4 linked regions of the Homo sapiens genome follow. The protein of the gene in region 1 purifies or fractionates together with the protein of each later gene. This does not show direct contact. Each region holds a gene or a part of one and is shown in the gene's direction. Other genes may lie near its edges.

Evidence for each region.
Region 2: the proteins of STX19 (region 1) and SULT1A2 purify together in Homo sapiens (affinity purification with mass spectrometry; 3 studies listed by BioGRID and IntAct, with this or other methods). This does not show direct contact.
Region 3: the proteins of STX19 (region 1) and ZNF277 purify together in Homo sapiens (affinity purification with mass spectrometry; 3 studies listed by BioGRID and IntAct, with this or other methods). This does not show direct contact.
Region 4: the proteins of STX19 (region 1) and TRIM9 purify together in Homo sapiens (affinity purification with mass spectrometry; 3 studies listed by BioGRID and IntAct, with this or other methods). This does not show direct contact.

Annotation. Positions count from the first base shown.
Region 1 is NC_000003.12:94,013,035-94,019,173, reverse strand, and holds the end of STX19 (syntaxin-19), read left to right. Parts: intron 1-675; exon of another isoform or gene 676-735; intron 736-3,891; 5' UTR 3,892-3,904; coding exon 3,905-4,789; 3' UTR 4,790-4,809; downstream 4,810-6,139. UniProt on the Homo sapiens protein: Plays a role in endosomal trafficking of the epidermal growth factor receptor (EGFR).
Region 2 is NC_000016.10:28,593,363-28,601,990, reverse strand, and holds the start of SULT1A2 (sulfotransferase 1A2), read left to right. Parts: upstream 1-4,940; 5' UTR 4,941-4,994; exon of another isoform or gene 4,995-5,857; intron 5,858-6,025; exon of another isoform or gene 6,026-6,056; 5' UTR 6,057-6,060; coding exon 6,061-6,208; intron 6,209-6,315; coding exon 6,316-6,441; coding exon of another isoform or gene 6,442-6,526; coding exon 6,527-6,624; intron 6,625-8,422; coding exon 8,423-8,549; intron 8,550-8,628. UniProt on the Homo sapiens protein: Sulfotransferase that utilizes 3'-phospho-5'-adenylyl sulfate (PAPS) as sulfonate donor to catalyze the sulfate conjugation of catecholamines, phenolic drugs and neurotransmitters. Is also responsible for the sulfonation and activation of minoxidil.
Region 3 is NC_000007.14:112,286,254-112,294,659, forward strand, and holds part of ZNF277 (zinc finger protein 277), read left to right. Parts: intron 1-619; coding exon 620-821; intron 822-2,371; exon of another isoform or gene 2,372-2,698; intron 2,699-8,406. UniProt on the Homo sapiens protein: Probable transcription factor. Involved in modulation of cellular senescence; represses transcription of the tumor suppressor gene INK4A/ARF, perhaps acting via the Polycomb group (PcG) complex PRC1.
Region 4 is NC_000014.9:50,974,256-50,981,001, reverse strand, and holds the end of TRIM9 (E3 ubiquitin-protein ligase TRIM9), read left to right. Parts: intron 1-1,452; coding exon 1,453-1,615; coding exon of another isoform or gene 1,616-1,711; exon of another isoform or gene 1,712-3,639; intron 3,640-3,648; coding exon 3,649-3,711; 3' UTR 3,712-5,736; downstream 5,737-6,746. UniProt on the Homo sapiens protein: E3 ubiquitin-protein ligase which ubiquitinates itself in cooperation with an E2 enzyme UBE2D2/UBC4 and serves as a targeting signal for proteasomal degradation.

The DNA of each region.
Region 1 (6,139 bases):
GGAGATGGTAAGAGGTGGCTAGATCCAAATACATTTTGAAAGAGATGTTGACAAGATTTGCTGTGCTTGCATATGAAATGTAGAAAAAAAAAGTCAAGAATGACTTCCAGCCAGGCGCGGTGGCTCACAGCTGTAATCCCAGCACTTTGGGAGGCCGAAGAGGGCGGATCGCCTGAGATCAGGAGTTTGCGACCAGCCTGGCCAACATGGTGAAACCCTGTCGTTAATAAAAATACAAAAATTAGCTGGGCGTGGTGGCACATGCCTGTAGTCCCAGCCACTCGGGAGGCTGAGGCAGGAGAATTGCTTGAACCCGGACGGCGGAGGTTGCAGTGAGCCGAGACCACACCACTGCACTCCGGCCTAGGGGACAGAGTGAGACTCGGTCTCAAAAAACAAACAAAAAAAGACTTCTGAGTCTCTGGTCTGAGCAACTGGAAAAATAGAGTTGCCAGAAGAGAGATGGGGCAGTTTACGGGTTCACAGGAAGATTATGAGCTCATTTTGGATAGAGGCATTCAAATGCAGCTGTCAGGTAGGCAGTTTTTTAAGAGCAACCTAAACTGGAGATACAAATTTGGGTCATCAGCTTACAAACAGCATTTAATGCCATGAGACTAAAAAATGATGATGGATAAAAATGAGACTCAGTCTAAAATCTTCCAATATTTACAGGTGGGGGAGATAAGGAGTAGCCAGGAAAAAGAAAATAGTGATAAAGGAAGAGCCAAAAAGGTAAGAGAAAAAAAACAGGAGAAATACTTTTCTTCAAAGTGTCTCAAGAAATGATTGTGTTAAGTGCTGATGGGTTAAAATCATCAAGTCCTATTGCTTCTAGTTTCAAAAATATATCCTGATGGTTCCCATTTACTCCATCTCTATCATTAAAGTCTCTTCTGTGAACTACTCCCACCCCCTCCCCAGGAAACTATTCTCTATATAGAAAGCAACAACATCTTTTAAAAATATAAATCAGGGCCAGGCATGGTGGCTTATGCCTGTAATCTTAGCACTCTGGGAGGACAAGGCGAACAGATGGCTTGAGCCCAGGAGTTCAAGACCGGCCTGGACAACATAGGGACACCCCTGTATCAGTTTAAAATTTTTTTAAATTACATATCAAAATGAAAAAATATATACAAATCATGTCAATATCCTATTTATCTTTTAACTGTCTTCTACTGCACCTAGAATAAAATCTAAACTCCTTCCTTTGGCCCACAAGTCCTTTATGATGTGGTCCATGCCTACCTTTCTACTTCATTCTTCCCATGTTACTCCTCTCATTCCTTTCTATCTACATTCACTTTGTTCTTATGCAATAACTCTGTTCCTAAAACATATCAGTCTCATTCACTGCCTTGGCAACCCAACTCCTAGACCTACAATACACTCCCTCGGCTCTTCATCTGCCTGGCTTCTCAACATTCAGTCTCACATCTCAAATATCTGCTTAGAGACCCTGCCTGATTATTGTATCAAAACCTAAAATTATCCCGTTTATCTTTTAAATTGTATATTGTCCTTCTCACCCTAAATTATAAATTCCTCAAGGACAGAAAATGTTAAATATATATTACAGCATTTAAAACTTATATACATATAAGACTTCAATGACTATTTCACAAAATACCAGTCCTTTAAAACCAAAGGAATATTACCAGGACATTGGTTTAACCTTTTACCCAAAACAGGCATCATTTCTGTAACATGCCTGCCTGGAGTCATCATTCCAGAACATCTTGAAAATGTCCAGTGATGGCAAACTCAGCACCTCATGAAGCAGCTCATTTCATCTTGGGAAAGCAATATTTGTTTGAAAAGTCTTCTTTATATTGAATCAAACCTCTTTCCATGTAATTTCCACCCACTGCCCTTTGGAGTTATGCCAAGTAAGTCTAATCTCACTTGCATACACAGACCTTTGTTTAGAAGACAGCTGTATACACACCCTACATCTTCTCTTTTACAGGACAAATATTACCATTTATTTCAATGAGTCTCCATTTGGTATGGTTTTCCAATCTCATCCTTTCCATGCTAGTCTGGTAATTCCTAACTTAAGAACTTCCATCTCAAAATATGCTCAGAAGTTTATTGAGTTCCCCTTACCCTTGCAATTTGCTCTGAATAGCATAGAGTTGGCAGAGTTTAGTCTATCCATACATCAGACTATTATTTATAAAAGCATAGTGACTATTCTGATGGTTCTGACAGAAAGCTTAATTAGGCTGGGAGCGGTGGCTCACACCTGTAATCCCAGCACTTTGGGAGGCCAAGGTGGGCGGATCACGAGGTCAGGAGTTTGAGACCAGCCTGGCCAATATGGTGAAACCCTGTCTCTACCAAAAATACAAAAATTAGCCGGGCATGGTGGCAGGCACCTGTAATCCCAGCTACTCAGGAGGCTGAGGCAGGAGAATCACTTAAACCCGGGAGGCAGAAGTTGCAGTGAGCTGAGGTCGCACCACTGCATGCCAGCCGGGGCATCAGAGCAAGACTCCATCTCCAAAAAAAAAAAAAAGAAAGCTTAATTAATTAAAATCTCCAATACTTTCATAGACACTATTGTGAACCCAAGGGTCTTCTACTCTGTAGATACGAAAATATTTTTCTTATAGCTAGATGAAATATTTTAAATCTATTCCTGTTAAATATATTTTTGTTATTTTTAGTATAAAGTTCCACACTATTTTAATATTTGAATCCCTACCCTGTACTTCAACATACTAAAGATTCCTCCAAATTTTACACCATCTACACATTTGTTAAGTATGCCTCCTATGACAACATCCAGATTAATAGAAATATTTCCATAAACATATCAAACACTGAGTCCTACAGCATAACAGCATCACATTCAGAGACCTTTTTTTTCTGGTTGATATTAATATTATATGTGGTCCAATGAGCTATCTGTACTCCCTAACAGCCTCTTCTTATCTTCAAAAATGTCTTGAAAGACATTTCTAAAATCAAGTTGCTCTGTGATAATAGCATTTTACTGCTTTTTATTCCCTTCATTTTATATGTATGTATGTCATTTCATATATATCTATATCATTAAATATAAATTATGTACATCAATTTGATTCTTACAGATAACTACCAACACAGCATGTGATAAGTGTCAATATCATTATTACTCCTAAAATAAGATTGTATATAAATATATTCTCATGTTTATAAAAGTATCACCTAACACAAATTGATATAAATTTTGTTCTAAGACAGTCTGGATATCTTTGCAAAAGAATGCTAAGAATGAGAAATCAGCATAATCAAACCAATGTTTTCACATATATGCAACAGCTAGAAAAAACATTATGCCAAGTAATACGTTAATTCAGAGGCTTCGGAAAATTTAAAATAAATTCAATATTATCCATATAGCTTAACGTTCTCATATAAAATCTGTACTGTCACTACAATGGTTTTAACTGAATGATGCATATTTAGCAAAATGAGTATTTTTTAATATTACATTGGCCAAATTAACCGGAAACAGTATCTTTAGTAACAAGGGCATTTTTGGCATCTGAAGACTAATCCTATAGGTTGAAGGTATAGTCAAAAGCATTCTTTATTACAAAAAAAAACTATCATGTGACAAATATTTTTGACCAACTGTGTCTGCATCACTGCTTTCTCAGCTATTGCACACAACTAAATAGCACTCACATGCAAAGTAACTTACAAATTATTTTATATTTCTTTCCCTATTTAAATGGTTTTTATGAGGAAACTCATTGGTTTTTTCTAACTTTTTAACCTCATTTGAGAAAACTAGGAGAACTTTTGCTGGGATATAGACAGTTATGTGAAGTCAACTGCTACTGGGGAAAAATACCAAATTTCTACTTGTTCAACACAAAAATTTTTGCTTCTTAGGAGGAAAGGGAAGATGAAAGACCGACTTCAAGAACTAAAGCAGAGAACAAAGGAAATTGAACTCTCTAGAGACAGTCATGTATCAACTACAGAAACAGAGGAACAAGGGGTGTTTCTACAGCAAGCTGTTATTTATGAAAGAGAGCCTGTAGCTGAGAGACACCTACATGAAATCCAAAAACTACAGGAAAGTATTAACAATTTGGCAGATAATGTTCAAAAATTTGGGCAGCAACAGAAAAGTCTGGTGGCTTCAATGAGAAGGTTTAGTCTACTTAAGAGAGAGTCTACCATTACAAAGGAGATAAAAATTCAGGCAGAATACATCAACAGAAGTTTGAATGATTTAGTTAAAGAAGTTAAAAAGTCAGAGGTTGAAAATGGTCCATCTTCAGTGGTCACAAGGATACTTAAATCTCAGCATGCTGCAATGTTCCGCCATTTTCAGCAAATCATGTTTATATACAATGACACAATAGCAGCAAAGCAAGAGAAGTGCAAGACATTTATTTTACGTCAGCTTGAAGTTGCTGGAAAAGAGATGTCTGAAGAAGATGTAAATGATATGCTTCATCAAGGAAAATGGGAAGTTTTTAATGAAAGCTTACTTACAGAAATCAATATCACTAAAGCACAACTTTCAGAGATTGAACAGAGACACAAGGAACTTGTTAATTTGGAGAACCAAATAAAGGATTTAAGGGATCTTTTCATTCAGATATCTCTTTTAGTAGAGGAACAAGGAGAGAGCATCAACAATATTGAAATGACAGTGAATAGTACAAAAGAGTATGTTAACAATACTAAAGAGAAATTTGGACTAGCTGTAAAATACAAAAAAAGAAATCCTTGCAGAGTACTGTGTTGTTGGTGCTGTCCATGCTGTAGCTCAAAATAAAGAAGCTATTTTAAAACTTTTTCCAGCTTTACGGTAAAAGATAGCTTATATTTCAGTGTCTTGTATTGTTTTTCTCCATCTCATGGATCCACTCACATACCTTTCATCACTGTTAAGTTGTAATTTTCCCCTTTAACCCTAACCCACTAAAATTTCAGAAACTTCTGTAGCCAGTTACATAAAACACACTTTTATTTAATTAAAGTACAAAAAAATACAGTTACCATCAACTCACAAATTAACTATTGAAAATGAGATGCATAATCTTAGTCTTCTGGTCAGGTATCAAGCTCTATATTATACATTTCTCTCATGTGTTAAGTAGTAATGACTACCTAGGCAATCCATTTGGCTGACTGGAGAATATTTTAATAGTTAAGAATCATGCTACAATAAAGCTAAACCAAACTAGAACCTTTATCAAATCTTTTCTCTTTTGAGACAGAGTTTCACTCTGTCACCCAGGCTGGAGTGCAGTGGCATGATCCTGGCTCACTGCAATCTCCACCTCCCAGTTTCAAGCGATTCTTGTGCCTTAGCCTCCTGAGTAGCTGGGATTACAGGTGTGCACCACCACACTCGGTTAATTTTTGTATTTTTAGTAGAGGGGGTGGTTTTGCTATGTTGGCGAGGCTGGTCTCAAATTCCTGACCTCCAGTGATCCGCCCCCCTGGGCCTCCCAAAGTGTTGGAATTACAGGTGTGAGCCACCATGCCCAGCCCTTTATCAAATCTTTTATCCTCAGAAGGTAACTTAACTCAATGTCAACAGATCAGGGAAAACTCAACTATGTACTTGAAGAATCTAATTTGTAACTGGGAGCTGAATCTAGCTTAAGGAATAAGAAGATGAGTTAAGGTATTGCTTTCTTGAACTTGGGTCCATACAGGGCAATGTATTACAGACTGGCAGATAAAGTCAAATTAAAGGCAACTGTATTCTTGAATATTTTGCCATGACTTTAAGATAATGCTATACTATACTATAAGCTAGAGATACAGTCTAAATTCACACAACACGGGAATAGAGTTTTGCAACTCACATTCTAATGGAGAAAGCAGATAAATACAAATATTAGATAATGTTAAGTTCTGGGCAGAGACTTAAAAGGGCAATGAAATGAGACAGAGACTGTCAAGGGGTGCTTCTTTAGATTGGGTAGTCAGCGAAGACCTTTCTGAAAGGTGAAATTTACTTGAAGATCTGAATGAGTACAAGGGAGGGTATAATTCCAGGCATAGGAAACAAATAGTACAAAGACCCTGAGGAGGGTCTGACTAACTCTGTGCAAAGAAAAATAACAATCCAGCTGGGGCATAGTCAGAAAAGAGCAGTGAGATATGAGATGAG
Region 2 (8,628 bases), on another chromosome or scaffold:
CCAGGGAGGGACAAAGTGAGTTTGCAGGTGCTGGAGAGGCTCTCTTCTTGATGTCGGTGCTGAACCAGAAGTGTGTTTAAGGAGAATTTCCTAAAATTCAAAGAGTTCCACGGGAGTCGCGGCTAGGCCGGGGCGCTTCTTCAGCATCTACCTGCTCTAAGGCCTGAACCCCCGTCATCAGGGCCACGTTTATATGGGGTTCACTGTCAGCCCTGCTTGTCAGGTCCAGCAGCACAATGGGGACCACACAAAAGGCAGGGCCCAGGCCTGGCGCGGTGGCTCAAGCCTGTAAACCCAACACATTGGGAGGCCAAAGCGGTTGGATCACTTGAGGTCAGGAGTTCGAGACCAGCCTGACCAACATGGTGAAACCCCGTCTGTAATAGAAATACAAAAATTAGTCGGGCATGGTGGCACGTGCCTGTAATTACAGCTACTCGAAAGGCTGAGGCGGGAGAATTGCTTGAAAGATGGGGCAGGGGGCAGCGGCAGAGGTTGCAGTGAGCCAAATCGGGCCATTGCACTCCTGGTGAGACCGGAAGGGTCTCTGTGCCAGGAGGAAGGCTTCCTGGAGGAGGCGGACCCCGCTGGGCACAAGCCTGATGAGAGGGAGGGGCATGCCTGTGACATGGGTGGGGAGTCCAGGGTGGGGACGGGACTGTCACAGAGGAGGAGCATGACGGGGAGACAGTGCCCTGGGAATCTTGGCGGTGGAACTCCGGGGAGGAGCTGGCTGGGGCGGAGGTGATGATCCAGGATGCGGGCCAGCGTAGGGGTCTTGGTGGGCATGCTGGGGTCGGATGGAGCGCAGGAGGGAGAGGAGGGGGGACAGGTGGGTACCTGGGCTGGAGGCGCGGCCTGAGGTGGGCAGGTTCAGGGGGCGTGACTTCATTTAGGGGCAGGGCCTGGGGCTAGGCTGAAGCCGGCAGTGAGGACCCCGCTCTCGGGTGGAATTGGAGGGGACCCGCGGTTGGGCGCGGCAGGGCTCACAGGGACACCCCCGTTCTCCTCCCCAGGGAGAAAGTGCTCGTCGTGCACGGCTTCCCGCCCGCCGTGGCAACCCTTCGGGTAAGGAAGGAGACCAGGCGGCGGCAGGCGGGCAAGGGCTTGGGGTCCGCCCCCCTGCCTGGAGCCGCCCTAACTCCTCCGTATCCTGCCGCTGTTGGAGTGGGCCTGGAACCCCCTCCATAGGCGCGCCTCCTACTCCCGCTGCACCCCGACCTCCGCCGGGACCTCTATGCGCCGCGCCGCACGGGCGATGGCCTTCGGGCCTCCCCGGCCCCAGGGCACCGCGCAGGTCCCTTTGCTGGCACCAAGCCCGAGCCTGAGCCGGACCCGGGGCCCAAGAGGCCTGTGCGCCCTGCGAGCCCTTGAGCTCCAGGGGAGGTCCGCCCCAGGCAGGGCGGCTCATCCCCCAGACCACTTCGGATCCAGCTGTTTGTTGAGGAGCCAGGAAACGCCCTGACACTTTTGCGGCCCTGTCCCCGTCTCTAAGATGGGGATGATAGTATTTCTGGCCATTCCTGAGCACAGCAGGACCTGCCTTTTCCCTTTGACTGGAAGGTTCTTCTCTACACCTATCTTGATAACCTGCCACCTCCACAGGGAGGTCTTCTCTATCTCCCGATTTAAAATTGCAGCTCTGAGAAGCCGGGCATGGTGGCATATGCCTGTAGTCCCAGCTACGGGGGGAGGCTGAGGTGGGAGGATCGCTTGGTCCCAGGAGTTGGAGGCTGCAGTGAGCTCTGATCGCTCCACTGCACTATAGCCTGGGCAAAAGAGCAAGAAACTGTCTCTAAAAATATAAAATAAAATTGCACCTCTTGTGTACTTCCCCGTCTGCTTCTTTACCTGAATACTTACTATCTCACCGGCTAGGTGCTTTATGACTCTCGTTAGTCTCTCCCACCCCAACCTTTGCACTACATTGCCCGAGGGCAGCTCTTGTCACTGCTGTAGAACAAAGTCCTGCACAGAGACGATAGCCAAGAAATAGTTAATAAAATAATGGAAAACGGGTGCCTTCTACTGAGCACCCGCTAATAGTGAGTGAGTAGAGGACTTGCCCTGGGGACATTCAGTGACCTGCTGGGTGTTGCTGAGCTGTGAGGAAGTTCAGGTCTGGCTGCAGTGGTGAGGCTGTGACTCAATCAATCACTGCTGATGCTCCCAGGACCTGCACCAGCTTAGTCCCAGGGGCAAGGATTTTAAACCCCCACCTCCATTTCCTCATCTGTAAGATGCAAATAACAGTCACCTCTGCCTCACGGGATGGAGCTGTGTAATGCCCGGAACAGTGCCTGCTGCATAGAGGGGTTGCTGCCAGCTGCCTCTCCCTCCTTGTCTCTTACCTGCCTGCTGCCTGGGACAGGATGAAGCGGGGCCCTTGTGTTGCCCCAACCCTGGCTGTTGGCTAAGAGCCCACGTGATCTGCCTGTGAGAGGAGTTCCTTCCGGAAGAACCAGGGCAGCTTCTGCCCCTAGAGGGCCAATGCCCTAGCTGAGTGCAGTCCCCCGGCCCCAGCCTGGTCCAGCTTTGGGAAGAGGGTGCCCAGTTGTGCAATCCAGGCCGGGGCAGCCGTGTCCTGATCTTGGTATTCAGGGCTGAGCCTGGAGGGGGCTTGTGATGCCTGACTCTGTCTCTCTCTCTGGCCCCATGCCTTGGTAGCTGTGAGGCGTCACTGCTTTGGGTGACCTGATCTGGCTGTGATGGATGAGCACGGGGGAAATAGTGGAAGACTCGGAATTAGAAGACGTGAGTGGGCTTTGGCCCCAGCCTCCCTACCCCACTCCCTGTCCTGGGCTGCCTGTGACCAACCTTGTTTCTGCAGGCACACTGGATAGCCCTGCTGGAGCTCAGTGTCCCTAATCCCCTCCAGATACTGGTGGCCTAGGGGAGGTCATCAAAGACCGGTGGGACATCGACCTCAGCCCGTTTCCACGCTTTTTTTTGTTTTGTTTTGTTTTTTTGAGACCGAGTTTCACTCTTGTTGCCCAGGCTGGAGTGCAATGGCGTGATCTTGGCTCACCGCAACCTCCGCCTCCCGGGTTCAAGCGATTCTCCTGCCTCAGCCTCCCAAGTAGCTGGGATTACAGGCGTGTGCCACCAGGCTTGACTAATTTTCTATTTTTAGTAGAGACAAGGTTTCTCCATGTTGGTCAGGCTGGTCTCAAACTCCCGACTTCAGGTGGTCTGCCTGCCTCGGCCTCCCAAAGTGCTGGGATTACAGGAGTGAGCCACCGTGCCAGGCCTTCTCCAGGCTCTTGGCACCTTAGCCAGAAACAATTTAAGGACAAGTGCAAAAGTCATGAACGTAGGCAGATTTCCTGCAGAGTAAAGGGACTCACTGAAGAAGAGGAACGTGGGGGTCCTCAAGAGAGTGTCTCATGCCCTACAAGGTGTGGGGCTGACCTTTATGGGCTTCTTCAACTAAAGAGGGGTATATTCATGAAGATTCCAGGAAAAGGTAAAGATTTCTCAAGACCGTGGTGCCACAATTTACACCCAAATACAGGTGTTCCTGGAGCCGTCTTGGCACTGGTGGGTGTACGGTTTCATATGTTACTGATTGTACAGTGAGATCCTAGGTGAAACCTACATCAAATACAGCGCCATGTTGCTTCTGGTTGGTCGCAGCCAGCTTGGTCCTCATCCTATTTTTCAGGGACTTATTGGCCCTTGGCACATGCAGCTATTTCAAGTTTCCTTCTTCTGGTCATGTGAAACTGCTGCCTGGGATTTTCTGTTGTCTTGCTAGCACTCTATTAATCTCACATTCTCGCCTCTTTTCTGTGCCACCCCCTGCTGGTCCGGCTGGTTTTCACTAGAGTGCAATACAAAGTCTCAGTCAAGAGGGCCTCCTGAAGGTTGCTGAGGGCAGGGGTGGAGCTAGTAGCCGGAGGACCTGCCAGTCATGGGGATTCCTCAGGGGCACAGAGGAGGGAGGAGGGGCCTGTGGCCCTAGCAGGGGAGCAGCCTCTCCTCTGCCTGGAAATCCCATGCCTCAGTTTTCCCCGCTTGCCTCTGAGCTCACGCAACCCTGGGAAGGCTTGGGAGACTCACCTTTACTCAGATGGTTGTTTACCTGTCTCGTGCCCAGCTTGACCCTGGACTTTAAATAGTGAGGACAAAGAACGAGGAGGGTGGGGGGATGCACTCCTTCCACGGGGCCCTGTGGCTTCCAAGCCTCAACCTCCTCTGGCCTCTGTCTGTGGAGCCTCCTTCAAACCCATGGAAAGAAAAGTACCTGCCAGGGGCTGTGGTTCTTCTAGGATCTTCTATCGATGTTCTGTGAGGTCCCCAGGGAGCCATGAAGCTGGGGCTGGCTCCCAGGGCAATGGGACTGCAGTGTCCTTGTTCTTTCTTGTTCTATGGATCCATGCTCTGCTCCACCCCTGCCCCTTCACTCTGCCCACACGCATCACTCCAGACTGGCCTTGTGGTCAGAGCCTGGAGTGCATGGGCTGCTGGAGGCCTGTGGGTTGCACTGGGCCAGGACCCCTGGCACCTTCAAGACTGGCCTGGAGCCAGCAGGTAGGTGACCTTTCCAGGGCCTGCCTATCCCATCTTTCTCCTCCAATCCCTCCCCTCTCTTGCCTGGGTCAATTAGAGAAAGCTTGTCTTTTGGAGTTCAGGGGCAGGTCAGGAGCCCAGTGACAGCTCAAAAAAAAAAACCCACAAAAACAAACCCACCATTGGGCCCTTTCCCCTTTCATTCTTCTGTTTTCTACACACCAAACCCAGTCGTGGCTTTGGAGATCACTTTAAGCTTGTCTCCAGCTGGCAAACTAAGGAGGGTAATAGAGAAGCTCCCCCACCCCCAACCCTACCCCTTCCTTCCGGAAGCAAATCTAAGTCCAGCCCCGGCTCCAGATCCCTCCCACACTGACCTAAGAAACCCTCAGCACAGACAACACCCCTGCATTCCCCACACAACACCCACACTCAGCCACTGCGGGCGAGGAGGGCACAAGGCCAGGTTCCCAAGAGCTCAGGTGAGTGACACACCGGAATGGCCCAGGACGCCCTCACCCTGCTCAGCTTGTGGCTCCAACATTCCAGAAGCCGAGGCCTCTGCTATCCCTGCCCTCTCCCCATGGATATCCCATTTCAGACAACCCCGGCCGGCCTGAATCCCCCTCCCTTCCTTTTTTTTTTTTCCGGGGAGGCCAGGTCTTGCTGTCACCGAGGCTGGAGTGCTGTGGGATCCTGGCCACTGCAGCCTTGAATTCCTGGGCTCAAGTGATTCTCCTGCCTCAGTAGCTAGGACTACAGACCCTCACCATCCTGCCTGGATAGTTTTAAAAAATATTTTTAAAAGATTTTTAGAGATGGGGTCTTCCAATGCTGCCCAGATTGGTCTCCAAATTCTGGCCTCAGCCTCCCTAGGGTCTGGGATTACAGGTGGGAGCCACCCTGCCCAGGATCCTCCTTTTGCTGAGTCATCACAGTTTTGCTCATTCCCACATCAGGCTCTGGCCCCCAATACCAGCTCAGTTGCTCAATGGGCTGTTTGTCCTGGAGCCCAGATGGACTGTGGCCGGGCAAGTGGATCACAGGCCTGGCCAGCCTAGGAGTTGCCACATGTGAGGGGCCGAGGGGCTCAAGGAGGGGAACATCGGGGAGAGGAGCCTACTGGGTGGAGGCTGGGGGTCCCAGCAGGAAATGGTGAGACAAAGGGCGCTGGCTGGCAGGAAGACAGCACAGGAAGGTCCTAGAGGTTCCTCAGTGCAGCTGGACTCTCCTGGAGACCTTCACACACCCTGACATCTGGGCCCCGCGCCACGAGGGTGCTTTCACTGGTCTGCACCATGGCCCAGGCCCTGGGATTTTGAACAGCTCCGCAGGTGAATGAAAGGTGAGGCCAGGCTGGGGAACCACCACATTAGAGCCCGACCTGGTTTTCAGCCCCAGCCCCGCCACTGACTGGCCTTGTGAGTGCGGGCAAGTCACTCAGCCTCCCTAGGCCTCAGTGACTTCCCTGAAAGCAAGAATTCCACTTTCTTGCTGTTGTGATGGTGGTAAGGGAACGGGCCTGGCTCTGGCCCCTGACGCAGGAACATGGAGCTGATCCAGGACATCTCTCGCCCGCCACTGGAGTACGTGAAGGGGGTCCCGCTCATCAAGTACTTTGCAGAGGCACTGGGGCCCCTGCAGAGCTTCCAGGCCCGGCCTGATGACCTGCTCATCAGCACCTACCCCAAGTCCGGTAGGTGAGGAGGGCCACCCACCCTCTCCCAGGTGGCAGTCCCCACCTTGGCCAGCGAGGTCATGCTCACCTCAGCCTGCTCACCTCCCATCTCCCTCCCTCTCCAGGCACCACCTGGGTGAGCCAGATTCTGGACATGATCTACCAGGGCGGTGACCTGGAAAAGTGTCACCGAGCTCCCATCTTCATGCGGGTGCCCTTCCTTGAGTTCAAAGTCCCAGGGATTCCCTCAGGTGTGTGTGTCCTGGGTGCAAGGGGAGTGGAGGAAGACAGGGCTGGGGCTTCAGCTCACCAGACCTTCCCTGACCCACTGCTCAGGGATGGAGACTCTGAAAAACACACCAGCCCCACGACTCCTGAAGACACACCTGCCCCTGGCTCTGCTCCCCCAGACTCTGTTGGATCAGAAGGTCAAGGTGAGACTGGGCACAGTGGTTCACACCCGCAATCTCAGTACTTTGGGAGGCTGAGGTGGGAAGATCCCTTGAAGCCAGAAGTTCCAGATAAGTCTCTTCCAAAAAAAAAACTTAGCTGTGCATAGTGGTGTGTGCCTGTAATACCAGCTACTCAGGAGGCTGAGGTGGGAGGATCATCTGAGCCTAGGAGTTTAAGGCTACAGTGAGCTATGATCACACCAGTGCACTCCAGGCTGGGTGACAGAGAAACACTGTCTCAAAAAACGATGAATAGAAAGAGTGTCCCACCAGTGCGGTGGCTCACACCTGTAATTCCAGCACTTGAAGAGGCTGAGGCAGGTGGATCACCTGAGACTAGGAGTTTGAGATCAGCCTGGCCAACATGGCAAAACCCCATCTCTACTAAAAATACAAAAAAATTAGCCGGGCATGGTGGCAGGCATCTGTAATCCCAGCTACTTGGGAGGCTGAAGCAGGAGAATTGCTTGAAGCTGGGAGGCAGAGGTTGTAGTCAGCCGAGACCTCACCATTGCACTGCAGCCTGGGAAACAAGAGCAAAACTCTGTCTCAAAAAAAAAAAAAAAAAAAAAAAAAAAGCGGCAGGTGGCAGGGGGCTGGGCCTGTTGTGGCTCACGCCTGTAATACCAGCACTTTCGGAGGTCGAGGTGGGCAGATCACCCAAGGTTAGGAGTTTGAGATCAGCCTGGCCAACATGGAGAAACCCCGTCTCTACTAAAAATACAAAAATTAGCCAGGCGTTGGGGCAGGCGCCAGTAATCCCAGCTACTCGGGAGGCTGAGGCAGGAGAATAGCTTGCACCTGGGAGGCGGTGGTTGCAGTGAGCCGAGATTGTGCCACTGCACTCCAGCCTGGGAGACACAACGAGACATTGTTTCAAACAAAACAAATAAATATTTTAAAAGGTTTGCCACCTGGGTGGCTCACCGCTGTAATGCCAGCATTTTGGGAGGCCAAGATGGGTGGACCGCTTGAGCTCAGGAGTTCCAGACCAGCCCAGGAAACATGGGGAGACTCCATCTCTATAAAAGATGCAAATAATCAGCAGGGCATGGTGGCATAGCGCTATAGTCCCAGCTACTCAAAAGTCTAAGGTTGGAGGATTGCTTGAGCCTGGGAGGTCAACGTTGCAGTGAGCTATTCTCACTCCAGTGCACTCCAACCTGGGCAACAGGAAAAAAGAAAGCCCAAGGTCTTTTTTCTCTTTTCTCTTTTTTTTGAGACCTAGAGTCCCCCCCCCCAAAAAAAAAAAAAAACCACAACAAAAAGAAAAAAGCAAAGGTCCAGGTGTGGGGCATGTGAATCCAGGGAAGGAGGCCCCGGCTCAGCCCAGCTTTGGTCCTGTTCTTCTGGGAGAGTCGCCTCACTTCCTCCAGACTTGTCTCATCTTCCACGGGGGGGACTGTCTGCCTTTTGCTCTGATGACCAAAAACATGAGACTCTTCCGGGTAGACCTAAGAAAGGTAGAGGGTGGGTCCTCACAGGCCCACAAAATTTGGTGGTGGTGGGAACATGCCTGGTGGAGCATGCCTTGCTCCAGATCGGGGTGTGACGCATTGATGCAGATTATATTACTATAGAATATGATGGTCTCAGGGACCAGGCAGGACTTTGGCTTTTGAGCAGGGTTCAGATCCTGACTTGGCCCTACCTGTGCCGTGAGATCTCAAACAAGTCAGCCTCTAAGCCTCAGCTTCCTCCTTTGCCAAACCAAGAGATGAGCTGGCCTGGGGCAGGCTGTGTGGTGATGGTGCTGGGGTTGAGTCTTCTGCCCCTGCAGGTGGTCTATGTTGCCCGCAACGCAAAGGATGTGGCGGTTTCCTACTACCACTTCTACCACATGGCCAAAGTGTACCCTCACCCTGGGACCTGGGAAAGCTTCCTGGAGAAGTTCATGGCTGGAGAAGGTGGGCTTGATGGGAGGAAGGAAGGTGTGGAGCTAAGGGGTGGTGGCTACAACGCACAGCAACCCTGTGTCGGCACTCC
Region 3 (8,406 bases), on another chromosome or scaffold:
TAATGCATACTTGTGTAATAGGCAAATGATAAACATAAGTCAACATAGAAAATTGCCATGAGGGCCACCCAGCACATACTGTGTCTACCCAGCGTGAGAGCTTTGTTCTTGTTTGTGACAAATAATCAGAAACAGGAAAGAGTTTGCAGATGCGACAGGAAGCAACTTAACAGACAGGCCTGGCATCATCTGTCGCCTTAATGTATACCATTTATTCCCTTGGTGTGATGATTCTTAGCCATAGGTCACAATTGAGCCTTAGAACCTTAACCCAGAGTGTTGCAGCCTTCCCCCTTGCAAGTACCCCGGGAATTGCTGCCATTGGCCAGTGTCCAAGAAGAAGGCTTGAACAGCTGCCCTGACAAATGGGTTTCCCCCATTCAAGCAAGCAAATGAGGGGTTTGAGCTGCTTTGCAATACTCCCTGCCTCTGGGCTACAAACACTGTTTAAAATGATAATAAAGTATCCTACTCTCCAGCACTATGTATTTTTCTTTTTGGAGACATGTAAATATCTTTAGGATCTTTTTAATGCAGGAGGTGGGAAATCATCCATATGAAGAGTTGGTTTCAGCTTTTCTTTCTTTCTTTTTTTTTTTTTTTTTTTGGTCTATTCCAGACAGTAAGGATTGTATCCTGGAGCCGCTTTCCCTGCCAGAAAGTCCAGGTGGCACCACCACTTTAGAAGGTTCTCCATCTGTGCCTTGTATTTTCTGTGAAGAACATTTTCCTGTGGCTGAACAAGACAAACTTCTGAAGCACATGATTATTGAGCATAAGATTGTCATAGCTGATGTCAAGTTGGTTGCTGATTTCCAAAGGTAAGTTCTGTTTTTGTCCTTAAAAGAATTAAATTTGACCATGTGTGGTGGCTCATGTCTGTAATCCTAGTACTTTGGGAGGCCAAAGTGGGAGGATCACCCGAGGCCAGTAGTAGTTCAAGATGCCAGCTCTAAAAACAAAATTTAAAAATTATCTAGGATCAATGGCATGCACCTGTAGTTCCAGCTACTTGGGAGGTTGAGGCAGGAGGGCTGCTTGCACCCATGAGTTCGAGGCTGCAGTGAGTTATGGTTATACCATTGCACTCCAGCCTGGGTGACAGAATGAGACCCTGTCTCTTAAGAAAGAGAATTAAATGTATTGTTTGTTAAAGGAGTGACATAATCTATATATAAAATAATTCCCATACAAATATGAAAATTCATATTCATTTTCAGGTTTCTCCTTAGACTTAAAAAAAAAAACTTTACAACTCTTTTGTACTTCTGAGACTTTTTTTTTTTTTTTGAGATGGAGTTTTGCTATTGTCACCCAGGCTGGAGTGCAGTGGCACGATCTCAGCTTGTTGCAACTTCTGCCTCCCATGTTCAAGCGATTCTCCTGCCTCAGCCTCCTGAGTAGCTGGGATTACAGGCACCTGCCACCACGCCCAGCTAATTTTTGTATTCTTAGTAGAGATGGGGTTTCACCATGTTGGCCAGGCCTGTCTCGAACTCCTGAGCTCAGGTGATCTGCCCACCTCAGCCTCCCACAGTGCTGGGATTACAGGCATGAGCCACTGCACCCAGCCAACTTCTCAGACTTTAAAAAAATCTTTACATTATTTTTCTTGAGTCTGTAAGTTTGAGAATGTCACATACTAATTTATTTTCTATAAGTTCTCTAAAGAGATGAACTTTCCAAAGAGTAGATAATACTCACTTTGCAGCATTCCATGACATTGTAGATCTTATTGATGTCTCCCAGATTATGTCTCATGTTTTAGGCCATAGACATTCTCTGAGTGGGTCCTTCCAGTAATTCCAGAATAGACTTGGCAACAGGACACTCAAAAGGCAGTGTTTGGGAATGGGATCCTTGGAGACTTTCAAGCCAAAAGGATATTGCCCAAACAAATCTCAGTTTAAATGTTGTGATGAGGTTGATTCCTTTTTTCCCAATTTATAATTTCTGGAAGTAGTTGTCCAAGAGAAATACCTTCCCTGTATAGTTACTGAAAGCATAAAATTTGGTGTATCTGGTAAGGTCCCATTTTGAGGTATTCTGTCCTGATTTCCCCATAAAACATTGTAGTAGCCCAGACATTGAATACCCCTGCATCTAAACTCTGTTTCTCCCAGGCCATATAAAACATTCCTAGCAAACAGCTTCTTTCTTATGATAGGTCTTGCAAAAGAGCAAGCTGTATTATTAAGAGCTGACTATGAAAGTAGGAAAGCCTGGGGTTGAGTGCAGGCTTTCACACTTCCTAATCTTGTGATTTCCTGCCAAGCTACCTAACTACTCTAAGCATTGATTTTCTCATCTATAAAATGGGGGTAACACCAGCCCTCATGGTTATTGAATATTACATAAAACAAAGTATGGAATGTGAGGGCGATCTGGCTGTGACATCTGTCACCCCATTAATCGCCAGGGTTGATTCGGCTGATCTGGCTGGCTAAGTGGCTGTCCCCTTCCTCCCTCACCACTCCATGTTCATGCCTCCCAAAGCTGTGTTCTCAGTCAAAGAGGACAACCATCTCCACTAGAAGAGGACCAGTCTTTGGTCAAGGGTATACGAGTAGCTGCGCTTCCCTGCTGGAACCTCCAGACAAGCTCTCAAGTCCATTTGTAGGAGAACATAGGGTAGTCAAGCTTCCAAGATTCCAGACACATCCAAATGAAGTGCTGCATGTGGCAGTCTGCCTTTCTTAAAAAAAAAAAAAAAAAAAAAAAAAAAAGAAGAGTATGTGTAGCATCTGCTAGTGCCTGAGACATGTGTACCTGATAAATGGTAGATAAAATGCAAAATTTTATTTGTATTTTTATCACCGAAGGTATATTTGAAATCTTAGTTTTCTGCAGCTATCGTTTGAGTTTTCCATTTGTATTTATGCTAATCTAAAAACCTAATTATCATTTGTAAAATATAGCTTTTGAGAAAATTTCATTCAAGTTTCTAAATAATCTAAATTTTTGGAAAGATAGTTTAAGTTGGAATAGCCAGCATACCCACAGGGGTAATGATAACTATTCTCTAGCCTTCATCTCTGTCCTTATTGCCTAGCACCAATACTGAATATTTACCATGTGCCTTCTGTGTATGTTGCCTTATATCGACTCAGCACTACTATTTTTCAAGAGATTTTGGTGCTGCCTTATCAGGTCTCAGAGATAGGAGGACAGTTAATTGAATGATATATATTGCCAACTGCTAAAATAAACTAATTCCCTACATGCTCTCATAGGACATACTCTCTGCTCCTCATTATCATTTGTTATTCTTTATTCTCATTAAAATATATGTGTGTGTATGTCTTTATTCTCAGAGTATTCTGGGAGCTTTCTTATATGCAACCCAGTTATATGTGGTGAGATCTGTTGATTTTGTTTCAGACACTTCTTAGGCTAGAGATCTTCTAATTCATACTCAACCATTGAAAGAAATACTACATAGGTTATTCTTTCCTAAGGCTTCTATTAGTCAGCTTTTCTTTAATATGAAACCTTTATTTTTCTTTTTGAGTCCTGGCTGGAGTGCAGTGGCACGACCTTGGCTCAGTACAACCTCCACCTCCCTGGCTCAAGCAATCCTTCCACCTCAGCCTCCCCAAGTAGCTGGGACTACAGGCATGCACCACTACGCCTGGCTAATTTTTTTTTTTTCTTATACTTTAAGTTTTAGGGTACATGTGCACATTGTGCAGGTTAGTTACACACGTATACATGTGCCATGCTGGTGCGCTGCACCTAATTTTTTATGTTTTTAAATTTTTATGGTTTCACCATGTTGCCCAGGCTGGTCTAGAACTCCTGGGCTCAAGCAATCCACCCACCTCGGCCTCCTGAAGTGTTGGGATTACAGGTGTGAGCCACCGTGCCTAGCCATGAAACTGTTCTTTTATTCCCTTTTATCATATAAACACAAATTTTCCTTCAGGAATTGCAGAAGAACAGTATTAACTACCAGTGATAATTGAATAGTTTAAGATTTTTCTTTCTCCTCTGCCCGTAAAGTATGTGAGGAATGTCTGAATCAGAGTTTGTATTCTCCTTTGTGCTTATGTGTCATAGTTAAGTAGCTATATTTGTACTAATCAATCTCTCTATTTGTATCATTGTTATTAATCTCATTATCCTAATATGCATACGTGGGCAGAAAAATTGAATTATTTACTAGGTCTCGGGACTTAGGAGTCAGTAATTAAATGCTGGGATTATTCATGCTCTAAATGCAGATATACAATAAAATGGATGCTTTAATTAAAAAGAAAAGGATGCATATCTGATATAAGTGCTTTCTAAAGTGTATCTTTAACATGTATTTGAAATATGGAAACCTAGATTTTCCTTGTCAACTGTCCTTCTAATTAAGTAAAATTTTCACTCTCAGCAAGTATAAATGTGATTAATTCTGATTGATCAGGCATGTATCTGAGTAAACTCTGTTGCTTTTAAATACCTTTGACTGTATCCAGTCTTCTTTAGATAATAACCTCCTACTACTTAAGGAAACTAAAAATTCCTCTCCCAAACAATCCAGGTATTGATTGTTATGATCAAAGTTAAGTTGGAATCTTTTCAACATCATGTAACTTGTTTCTAATTTTAGAAGACAAGGTATAAGGTGTAGGGTTGGGAGGAGGGAACATGAGAGATTTATTTGGCATGAACACATTCACTCAGAACTCAAGAGGAATTGTTGCTTCTGAGTACAATAGATAATGAAGATGATAATAAATAAGAGATGGACTTACCTTGTGGTTTACAAGAAGTAAGCTATAAGTTTTCATACTAAATATATAATTTTTTATGAAACAAAATAACACTAAAACTTCCTGGGGCAGGAGAAATAAAAACAAAAATAAAAATCTTTCCATTGAGTCCATTTAACATAGTTATTTATACTGAGCTATTTGCTAGCTTTATTCAGTAGATAAAATTGCTCTGGAAAATAAATGTTAACTTCTTATTTCTTACCCTTTTCTATATTAAATTCCACACATTCACTGCTACTTAATTAACAACCATATTTCAAACCTTTATGACTATGTCAATAACCATACCAATTACAGTGAGGGTGGGCAGGCAAGATATTGCAACAAGGATTTTTTGTGAGACAATTCTGTGAGACATGATTTGAAGTTCCTTTGGAAGAAAAAAAGTATTTGCTGATGACCTAGTAATTACTTTTATAGATTTTTAATGAAGTATGAAATACTTTGATAACTCATCCAAATAGAGTTCCTACCACATGTTATTTCTTAGTGGCCTTTATATATTGAGTAGCTGCAATTGTAGCTTTCAGTAAACTAGAGAAGTAGGAAAAATACAGAAGAGAAGTACTAAATGAGCTCTTAAATTTGAACAGTGTTCTAGTGAGTGGGAAAAAATGCCACAAGAAGCATGTACTGAAGATCTGCTATCTTTATTCTATCACTCAGTTGATTACAATTTATCTGAATGCCCATACCATCCGAAAGGAAATGTATATATTGACACCTCTTAATTATAAGCTTAAAAACCACTATTATGTGTTTAATAACTAGGATGTTTCTTTACTCAAATTTAGACATAGGTCAAATGTATGTTGTTGTTGTTGTCTATAGTATACCACAGTAAGATATGATGCCTAATTTTATATGTTTAAGTTGTATGATGGTTTATGGTTATATTTTGCTTTGTAACAGATGATTTTTTTTTCTTTGATGTTGTTGTCACCCAAGTTTTGGTTAGGAAGAGAACACTCAAATGACAACTTTGTTCCTCTTGGACCAACCTATTACCTGCTTTATCCCATGGGAAACACTTCCTATTTGAGGAGGGCAACCGAGGTTCTGCCAGGCAGAATCTCCCCATGATTCTAAGTTAATTGATGTCAGTAATTTCTTCCCATGTGCATATCACCTTGAAGTAAACTCTGATGGAAAGTAAGCATGTCATGTGATTCTTCTCTTCAGACATCAAAGAGACAGTACTCAAACATAGAAGTTTTTGGAAACTGAGACCCACTGACTATTGGAATCAGGCTCCTGTTACCTCTGTAGTGGAACTTCTCTGCACCCTTTCCTTGCCTAGTTAAGCAGTTCCAAAACAGCCCCAAACAGTTGGTGTCAATTTTCAGCCCTTAGGTAGCAACTTAGGAGCAGTTCAGACTGAGGGCTACTGTTAAGTAGTATGCCTTTCGGAAGGGGAAAACATTCTCTTCCTCTTCAGACTTCATTTCTGTACTTCTGGTTCTGCCTTGTCAAAAAGCATTCTATGTGACCTCATTGGTCTCTGAGGGGAAAAAAATGCTTCAACTCTCTATTACAACTTTAATTATAGGGGCTCTTTCCTGTCCCTGCCTTCCCTTTTCTGCATTTCTTGTACCGATTCGTCCCCACATGACACTAGAGGAACTGTGTTGTAGAAGATTGAGTTTGGCCTTGGAGCCAGAGAGACAAAGTTCACATCTCAATTCTAACATTTTAATTGACCTTGGGCAAGTAAGGACTCATTAAATGGTAGCTGCTAATAATTGTCATTATTGTCACTATCATCATTCTTCTCTTCTACCACTTTAGCCACCTATATGTGCCCTCTGACGCTATTAATATAACTATTTTGTCTTTTTCATCAAATGTTTGCTGAAATGTTGTTGTTGTTTTTGTTGTGTGTCTCATTATTTCCCTGGGATAAATATAAATTATTCACTACCTTAGTCTTATTTAAATATGTTACTTTTTCTTATAGTAATAACTGTCATATATATTAAACACCCAGAATTTTGGACAGCGTGCTTTACATGCATTATTCTATTTAATTATCAACAATTTATTTTGCACATGAATAAACTGAGTTTCAGAAAGATTAAATAACTTTAAGTTCAGGTTCATACCTTTGAATTCAAAGTCCTTGCTTCTCTATTCACCATTGCCTCCGGGGTGGTAATTAATACATTAACTATGATACTTTGACCACTGTCTTAATTTAAAAAGCAAAACTGCTTCTAGCATAAGATCTGTGCAGATAAGCAAGGGACAATATTGATTGTCCATTTAAAAAAAAGTCATTGGCCAGGCACAGTGGCTCTCACCTGTAATCCCAGCACTTTGGGAGTCCAAGACGGGCAGATTGCTTGAGCTCACAAGTTCAAGACTAGCCTGGGCAACATGGCAAAACCCCATCTCTACAAAAAAAATAGGAAAATTAGTTGGGCATGGTGGTGCGTGCCTATAGTCCCAGCTACTCGGGAGGCTGAGGTGGGGAGGATGTCTTCAGCCCAGGAGGCAGAGGTTGCAGAGAGCTGAGATCACTCCACTGCACTCCAGCCTGGGCAATAGAGCCAGATCTTATCTCAAAAAAAAAAAAAAAAAGTCATTAATAATTCAAAGAGCAGTCTGTTCACGAGGATCCAAGCTCTTGCCTGGTCATCTGTTCCACATGGTTTCACACAGATACTTTTCTAAGACTGTGAACATTTTCCAAAGTAAAGTAGTCTGTGTATTCAAGGAGTTATCACTGCCTTTCAACAGGCTCTAGACCCAAAATGGAACTAATTATATAGGGCTGACCACTAGTCTCCGTTTTGTCTAGAGGATACCATCCAGATAGTCCTCAATGGAGTGGCAACCAGGACTGACGATCCACTCCTTGGTGTATTCTAGCAGTAGCAGTAGGGAACCTCCAGAGGGAACTTGGCCTTCCTGTCTTTTGAAGTCAGTTATCTTAGCACCTGGTTCTGCCATGTATAAATTTGATTAATCATGAAAATAGATGTCTATATTTCAATTTAGAGGAATAATCCATCTTCTGTTCTAACATCTCTAATACAGGTTCTACTGTGTTCCTTCATCCCTGTCACCACTTTGTAATAGAAAATGTGCTTGGGGGAGAATAAGAAAAGGACTAGGAATGTCATTTTTATTCTCTTAAGCCTCCTCTTGTCTTCTCTTTCCCCTTTTTTCCTCTCTACCATGGGGTGGTGGGGAAAGCAACTAGTGAGGAATGGAAAGATAGAGACTAGGAGTAGCCATGTAGGAGACTGAGGAGTACAACGTGTTGAAGCTGGCCCAGGATGGCTAAGGAAATAATGTCCCAGCCTTTTGTAGGTACTTTTTCTCTATTTATCTGCTGTGATGGATCCAATATGCACTTGCCTTCTTCTGAGATTTCTAATATGGAAGCCAGTGAGTTAGCCAAGGAGTAGGGTGCATCATTTATATATTTGTGGTTTAAGGCTCAATGGGAGCTTAAGATTGCCATTTTAAGATCTCCTAGAATACAAGTTAGCACTGTTTTATAAGGAAAGGGTTCTCCCCTTACTTACCCATCAAAGTTAACAGTGTGGTTGTACAGGAGAAGAAAAACTTAAACATGGGATTCTATTTTTATACACTATTCATTGGCTTCTTTTTCTTACATATTCTATATTCATTC
Region 4 (6,746 bases), on another chromosome or scaffold:
GTCTCTGAAAAAAAAAAAAAATACAGTAGTGTTCAACCAGATCAAAGGGAAAGCAAGTCAGACATTGGTAGGATAATTGGACCCCACTGTTTTATCTTTTTCTGTATGCTCATCACTGACCCTTCTCCAGCCTGTAGACTCCTAAAGCCTCCTTTTCCCTTGGATAGCTTCTATAGCATTCAAGTGTGTATTATTCGCTGTCACTTGAAGTGAACACACACACCATTTCACCATGAAAGCAAATCCTACTGGATGTAGATAAGTGGTTATCTTCAGTGATCGGCATTTTGTGGAACTCTCTGTCAATAGATTCTCAGTGCTATCACCCAAATGCCACACTTACTTTTTCCCTTTTAGCGTCTTTGTTTTGAAGTGCAGGAGTGAATAATGACATAACCATCACACTATGCAGAGAAACACATTCTTAATGCTGAACACATCTGCTTGCATGCAACCTGCATGTCACTTGTGCTTTCATTGTTAAACCTGTGAAGTAGCAAGAGGCAATTTGTAAACCTGTCTTTTAATGACTATGTACAGTCTGTATCCTGCATGCAAGAGGAAATGAATGACACAAATTCCTGTGCTCTGCTGAGATGAGGACGAAGTTCAATATTGCTAGATCTCAAAAAAATGGGAAAGACAAATCTGATCGTCCATTTTTAATGGCATTTTGTGAAACCATCAATTGAAGCATAAGACACAATTCTTTGTAAAATGGCATTTGTATGCAGGTTCTTTAAAATCACTACATCTCAGAGTATAATTATTTCACTGTACAGAGAAGAAGCCTCTTCTTCAGTGCTGTCATTTCACAGACAGCCTCCAAGTTCTTAATTCAAATGCAACAAGCCAAAAAACTGCTATCCTTCTGGAATGAGTTTTTCTGTTTAATGGATAACATAAGGCCCCAAATCCAATTTCTCATGCATGTGGTTTAGGTGCAACAAAAGTGCTTCTTATTTTGACTTTCAAATTAAGTCACTTTGTATTTAATGATATTTAATTCACACCATTTATACAAAGTGTGCAATATTCCTAGAGTCAGAGCTCTGATAGCCCAAAGGCGACTTTTTCCTAGTCTTTAATGTTTGGTTTTCTACTGCTGTGACTCAGTGGTAGAGACCCTAATGAATGAGTTCACTCTCAGCAACAGCAGAGCAACTCACAAGGGCAGATATCTCCCCCTAGGAAGTGAAAATTGATGGTGGCAGGGAGGGAGCAAAAAATCATACTCTTGTTATGTATAAAACACAGATATACACACAGTACCAACAGGTATACAGTATATCTGCGGTATTAAAATTTATGTGCAAGGGATGATTAGGGAAACGGTTTTGGGGTAGTGATGATTATAAACAGGTTGCAAGACACTGGTTTCACCACACAAAAGGGGGGAGCTTCTAGAGTGACCACAAGGAAATGAACCCCAATTTTTCTCTTTTCCTACAGAACTGAGGGAGGGATCACAAAAGGGGCCACAATTGGGGTCCTCCTCGACTTAAATAGAAAAAACTTGACATTTTTTATCAACGATGAACAACAAGGTCCCATAGCATTTGATAACGTGGAGGGCCTCTTCTTCCCTGCGGTCAGCCTGAACAGGAACGTGCAGGTAAGCACCCTGCCCCTGAGGTTAAACAGCTGTTGCTGGCTACCGGTTCAAAGGCTGCCCAGGGCCGTTCAATCCAACCGAAGAGAGGGAAGCTGACAGCGTAAGGCCCAGACCAAGATATGAAGGAGAGGAGGAGAGAAAGGGATCAGCACTGGCAACTTATTTTATTCCACGCCAAGCATAAGCACCTTCTTTATACTTGGACGCAGACTAGTTAATAGCACATAGGAAACTAGAATTCTCTTCATGGTTGGCTAATGATCATCTCTGTAGCTCTAGTTTCACCTCTAAATAGAAACGAAAGCCTTTAACCAACTGGCATGAAAACAAATAGAATGACTTAACAAAGCTCAGGAGTGCCTGAGAAGAGGTGAGGGTGTAAGACTGAAGCATTAGTATCATTATCAGAAAATCTGAGCATCTTCTCTGCACTCTTGTTTGGCTCTGTTAGGTCCTAAGGGGTAGAAAACATAGTCCCTACCTACAACTTAGTCAATTATTATTTATTATAGAATAAAACAACAGCTTCTCATTTATTCATTCAGCAAATATCTATAGAATGCCTTTAATGTGCCAGGCACAGTTATAAGTGTCTGGGATACATCAGTGAAAAAAAAAAACAAAAAAACAGATAAAAATCTTGCCTTCATAGAACTTACATCTTAGTGATAGGAGACAGACAATAAATAATAAGCATAATTACAATGTTAATCAGATGGTGTGTCAGAAGGTGTTTAGTGCAGTGGAGAAAAGACCAAGGGCCCATGAGTGGTGTGGTTGGGAAGGGCAGCCACAGTATTGCGTAGGTAGGGCTTATCGCAGTTACCGGTGAGCTGAGCCTTAAAGGAGTGAGGGAGTGAGTTGCGTGGAGCCTTCCAGACAGAGGGAACAGCCTGTGCACAGTTTCTAAGGCATGAGGGGCCTTGCATGGGCAAGGAATGGTGGAGAGACTCTTGGGCTGGGGCCTGGAAGGGGGACCAGAGCCATGCATGGGGGAAGAGCTGTGCCCTGCCAGCCGCTGTCAGGACTTAGGGTTTCACTTCCCTCCTGAGCTGGGCATCTCATTAACAACTATGAGCCTCATTCCACAAATGGTTGTCTTGAGATAAGGCTTGAGAATTACAGGTGACTTTTGCCCTATCCAGAACCAGCCTTGGAAACTATTTATCAAAATTCATTGTTGTGTTTCAGTATGTGCAGTAACATTGATTGCAAACTAGCAGCCCCTGCCCTTCTCCCTGCAAGGAGATGGGGTTTTCTAGAAGGCTGGAATCTAATCTTTCAGAGTTCAGCCTCTACACTTTAAGAAAGAAAACCATAAATTACCCTAGAAGCGAGTCTCAGAAAAACCCCATTCAAGGTTTTTCACATTAGCCATTTCCCTTTCAAAGAATATTATACTAGATGCTCTTCAGGGGTTTTCAGGACCTTCTGATTATCTATTGATAAAGACTCTTGGGCTGGAGAAGACAGGGATAAGAACTGCATGAAATGGTTCTAGTTTTATCCATAGCTATCCATTGAGGTTTGGGGATACACGGAAATTGGTAAAATAGTATAATGCCATGTTTTTTCACAACTGGCAATCATCTATGCGACCCCAGAAAGAAATGTTTGCCCTAATTACAATAACTAGTGGACAAGTAATAAGGGAAGTGCTGTCTCTGCGAATCTGTCCTCTATCCATGGATTTGGCAGTGGTCACTGTGGTGTGGCCAGTAGGCTCCTCTATCTGAAAACCAAGGCCTGTGTCTTCAGTTATAAGGAACACAATCTCCCCGGAATCCTTTAAAAGAGGCAGGTGACTAAGAACCATATAATCAAATGTCACCAGGATTTGAGAGCCCACCATGGTGAGCAGCCTGTTACCATAGGCAGGATTCTTCTTGAATTCCGTTTAATGCCTGCTAGCCTAGATGTTTAAAGCGAAGCAAACAGAACACTTTTTGAGTTAGGGACACACCCACGGTACACTGTGTAAAGGGACAGGGGGATGCACGATGCCTCTCAGGACTCACAGTCTCATTCCCCAGGTCACGCTGCACACCGGGCTCCCAGTCCCCGACTTCTACTCCAGCAGAGCATCAATAGCCTAAGGATGTGCCGTGGAGGCGCCAGCTGCCTGTTCTTACCTCCGCCTGCGAGAGCCACAGCAAGGAGCTCAGCCAGCCGTGGTGGGGTGCAGAGTTGGCAGGAGTGGGAGAAGGAGGAGAGAAAAGCTGGTCCTCTGCAGTCTTTACACCCACAGCTCTGCCCTTTTCCCTTTCAACCTCTCCTCCGCTGTCATGCCTGCTTCCGCTTCCATGTCCAACAATTCTAACCAACAAAGGACCTAGACAGCCCACCAAGTCACTTGGTTCCCACTCCCAGATTTTGCTTTTATTTAACTTAATTTTTTATGTAGGTGAGTTATATTTTCTTTCTTTTCTGATCAGGTTATTGGTGACTTACTGGACTGGCACCGCCAGGAGAAAATTCTCCTGCTAACTTTTTTTCTTAAGCTTTCTGTCAAACAATGAGGTTGTAGGGGGAGGTAGGGAAGAATGAGCTGAATTTGTAGCATACAGCTTACCTGCTAGAATGTTCTTACCCTCTTACCTCTCCTGTAGCGTTAGCTCTGCAGAGCTAAGCTTTGGGAGAATGAATCTATCACTGAGAAGTTTTACTACTCATTGAAGCACAAAAATATCCGCTACACAGGTTCACATCAGGGTAGGATCGTTAGGATGGCTCTATAATTAGGATAGGCCAGAACCCTGGCCACTGTATAAAATTGGAAAGTCTCTAAGACACAGGCAAACCAGGGGACTTAATGATTTGGTTCGTTTATTTAATAAAAGCTTTTAATTGAGAACCTACTATTGACCAGGCACTGTTCAAGACACTAGAACATTATGTTCTAGACACTGTGGGGACACAGTGGTGAACAGACAGGCATGGTCTCTGCCCTTCGGAGCTTATATTCCAGTAGGAGAAAAAGCAAAAATAAAATAATTATAAATGGTCATATGTACTAGAAAGGAAATGGGCAAGGGTCAAAGAGACTCATGGGCAAGATCTTTCAGGCTTCCTAGAATGATGCTAAAAATCCACACATTCTGGCCATAGCACCAGAAATGTACCAACTCAATGCCTTTTCAGCTGCACTATTTAATTATGGTACCTGCTGCCACTCATCACAGAGCCCTTCTTGGTAGAAATGATGTCAGCATTCTTATTTGCTGATGCTGCTATGATACCACGCCTTAAAAATTGACAGTTGAAAAAAAAAAGAGTGACCAGAGGGCAAAGGACCCATTCTCAGTAATGGGAGATCTTGAGTTGCAGTCCACAGCATTCACATTCTCAGGATAAACATGCTTGTCTCCATATATACTATCTGTGCCTGTTATGAATGAAAAATCCATCCACTCTGCTGCCATTCACAGCCTAATTTTCTGGAGTAGTCCAAACAATGTTTGGAAAAACATGGGACTGTATGTCATTACTATGACTGATAGCAGAATAATAATGCATCTTACTTCTATATAGAGATAGACTTACATAGGTTACCCTTGAAATTCATTAGTTTGTCATAAAGTTTTAGGAAAGGTAGGACCCGGAAAGAAGTTCTAATTAGTTGTCTAAATATTTTTCAGTGAGCCAAGAAATTCACCATGAAAAAACAAGAATAACAAATAGAAGGGAAGAGATAGGATGGGAAAGCTAACAAATTAAAGTTTTGGCAAAAAGGAATATATGTAAATAGCTAATTATTTACTTTTGTGCTTACTTTATTTAGATTATTTCTATCAGTTACAATCTTTTTCTAGTTAAGTGTACCTAATTTATGGAATGGGTGCTATCCTGTTTATGTGTGTCTTGGTTTTTCTTGGCTACAGAAAAACTGTTGCAGGGCAACACTAGTTTGATATTTGATTTACTCTCCAATGAGACTCAATGGCTGGGCCGTGGTAGACTCATAGTTCCTCTTGTTCTTTATTAAATTCATCCTGCTAATTAGATTTCTAGTGACTTGTAACATGTAGTTTACACTGAATTGCAATTACAGATGCATACAACTACTATACTAGAAAAAATTGTCATTTCTGATGTGCCAATAAATGATTTTTATGAGAGAATAAAATGTCTCTAGAATTTCTTAGTTTTTATCTATTGCGGATGACAATTCACCTTTGTCAGAGCGATGTTTCTTCAGGAAGATCTCATTGGAAAGGCCCCCAGAGCTCTGGAGAGCATGTGTTCTTTCCCCTGTTTCCTTGGGCATGTGGCACTGCCTTTTGGTTTTACTCATATGAAATTTAACCTGATGTGAAATGTCCAGTGGAGATGTCTGGGGTCTGCTTCCAAGTATTGGGGATTTACTTCTGTTTTTTTTTTTTTTTTTTAGACGGAATCTCACTCTGTCACCAGGCTGGAGTGCAGTGGCGCAATGTTGGCCCAGTGCAATCTCCCCTCCTGGGTTCAAGCAATTCTCCTGCCTCAGCCTCCCGGGTAGCTGGGACTACAGGCACACACCACCACGCCCAGCTAATTTTTTTGTATTTTTATTAGAGACGGGGTTTCACCATGTTGGCCAGGATGGTCTTGATCTCTTGACCTTGTGATCCACCCGTCTCGGCCTCCCAAAGTGCTGGGATTACAGGCGTGAGCCTGGCCTACTTTATTTTTAAAAAGCCACACATTTGGCTTGCAATTTTATAGTACTGCAAAACAGAGTGTCACTGACTTTTTCAAACCTAGCTCCTTTAACATTTCTTTGAATGGCAAAACAATAATTACAACATTATTCATCTACCTAACATTGTTGTTAGCCACTAAAAAAACACTTTGTTTCTTGATTAAAGGAAAAACATTACCTACAAATATATGGTCTGAGTTATAACCTCACAGAGTGGAATAGTACACAGTTGGTAGCTGCTGCTGCTCTCCGTTGATTCCAGTTTCTACACATTCCTCTTTCTGTCACGGGATCCTTGGGGTGTCACTTCTCCAGCCAAAAACCTCTGTGGCTGGCAGCGCCTTCTGCCTGAGTACTGCCTGCACCTACTGGGCTCATTCTGCCCACTCGGCCTGGCAGGCTGCACTCGGCTCACACTACCAGCCTGGATCCCACACCTGCTAAGGGTGA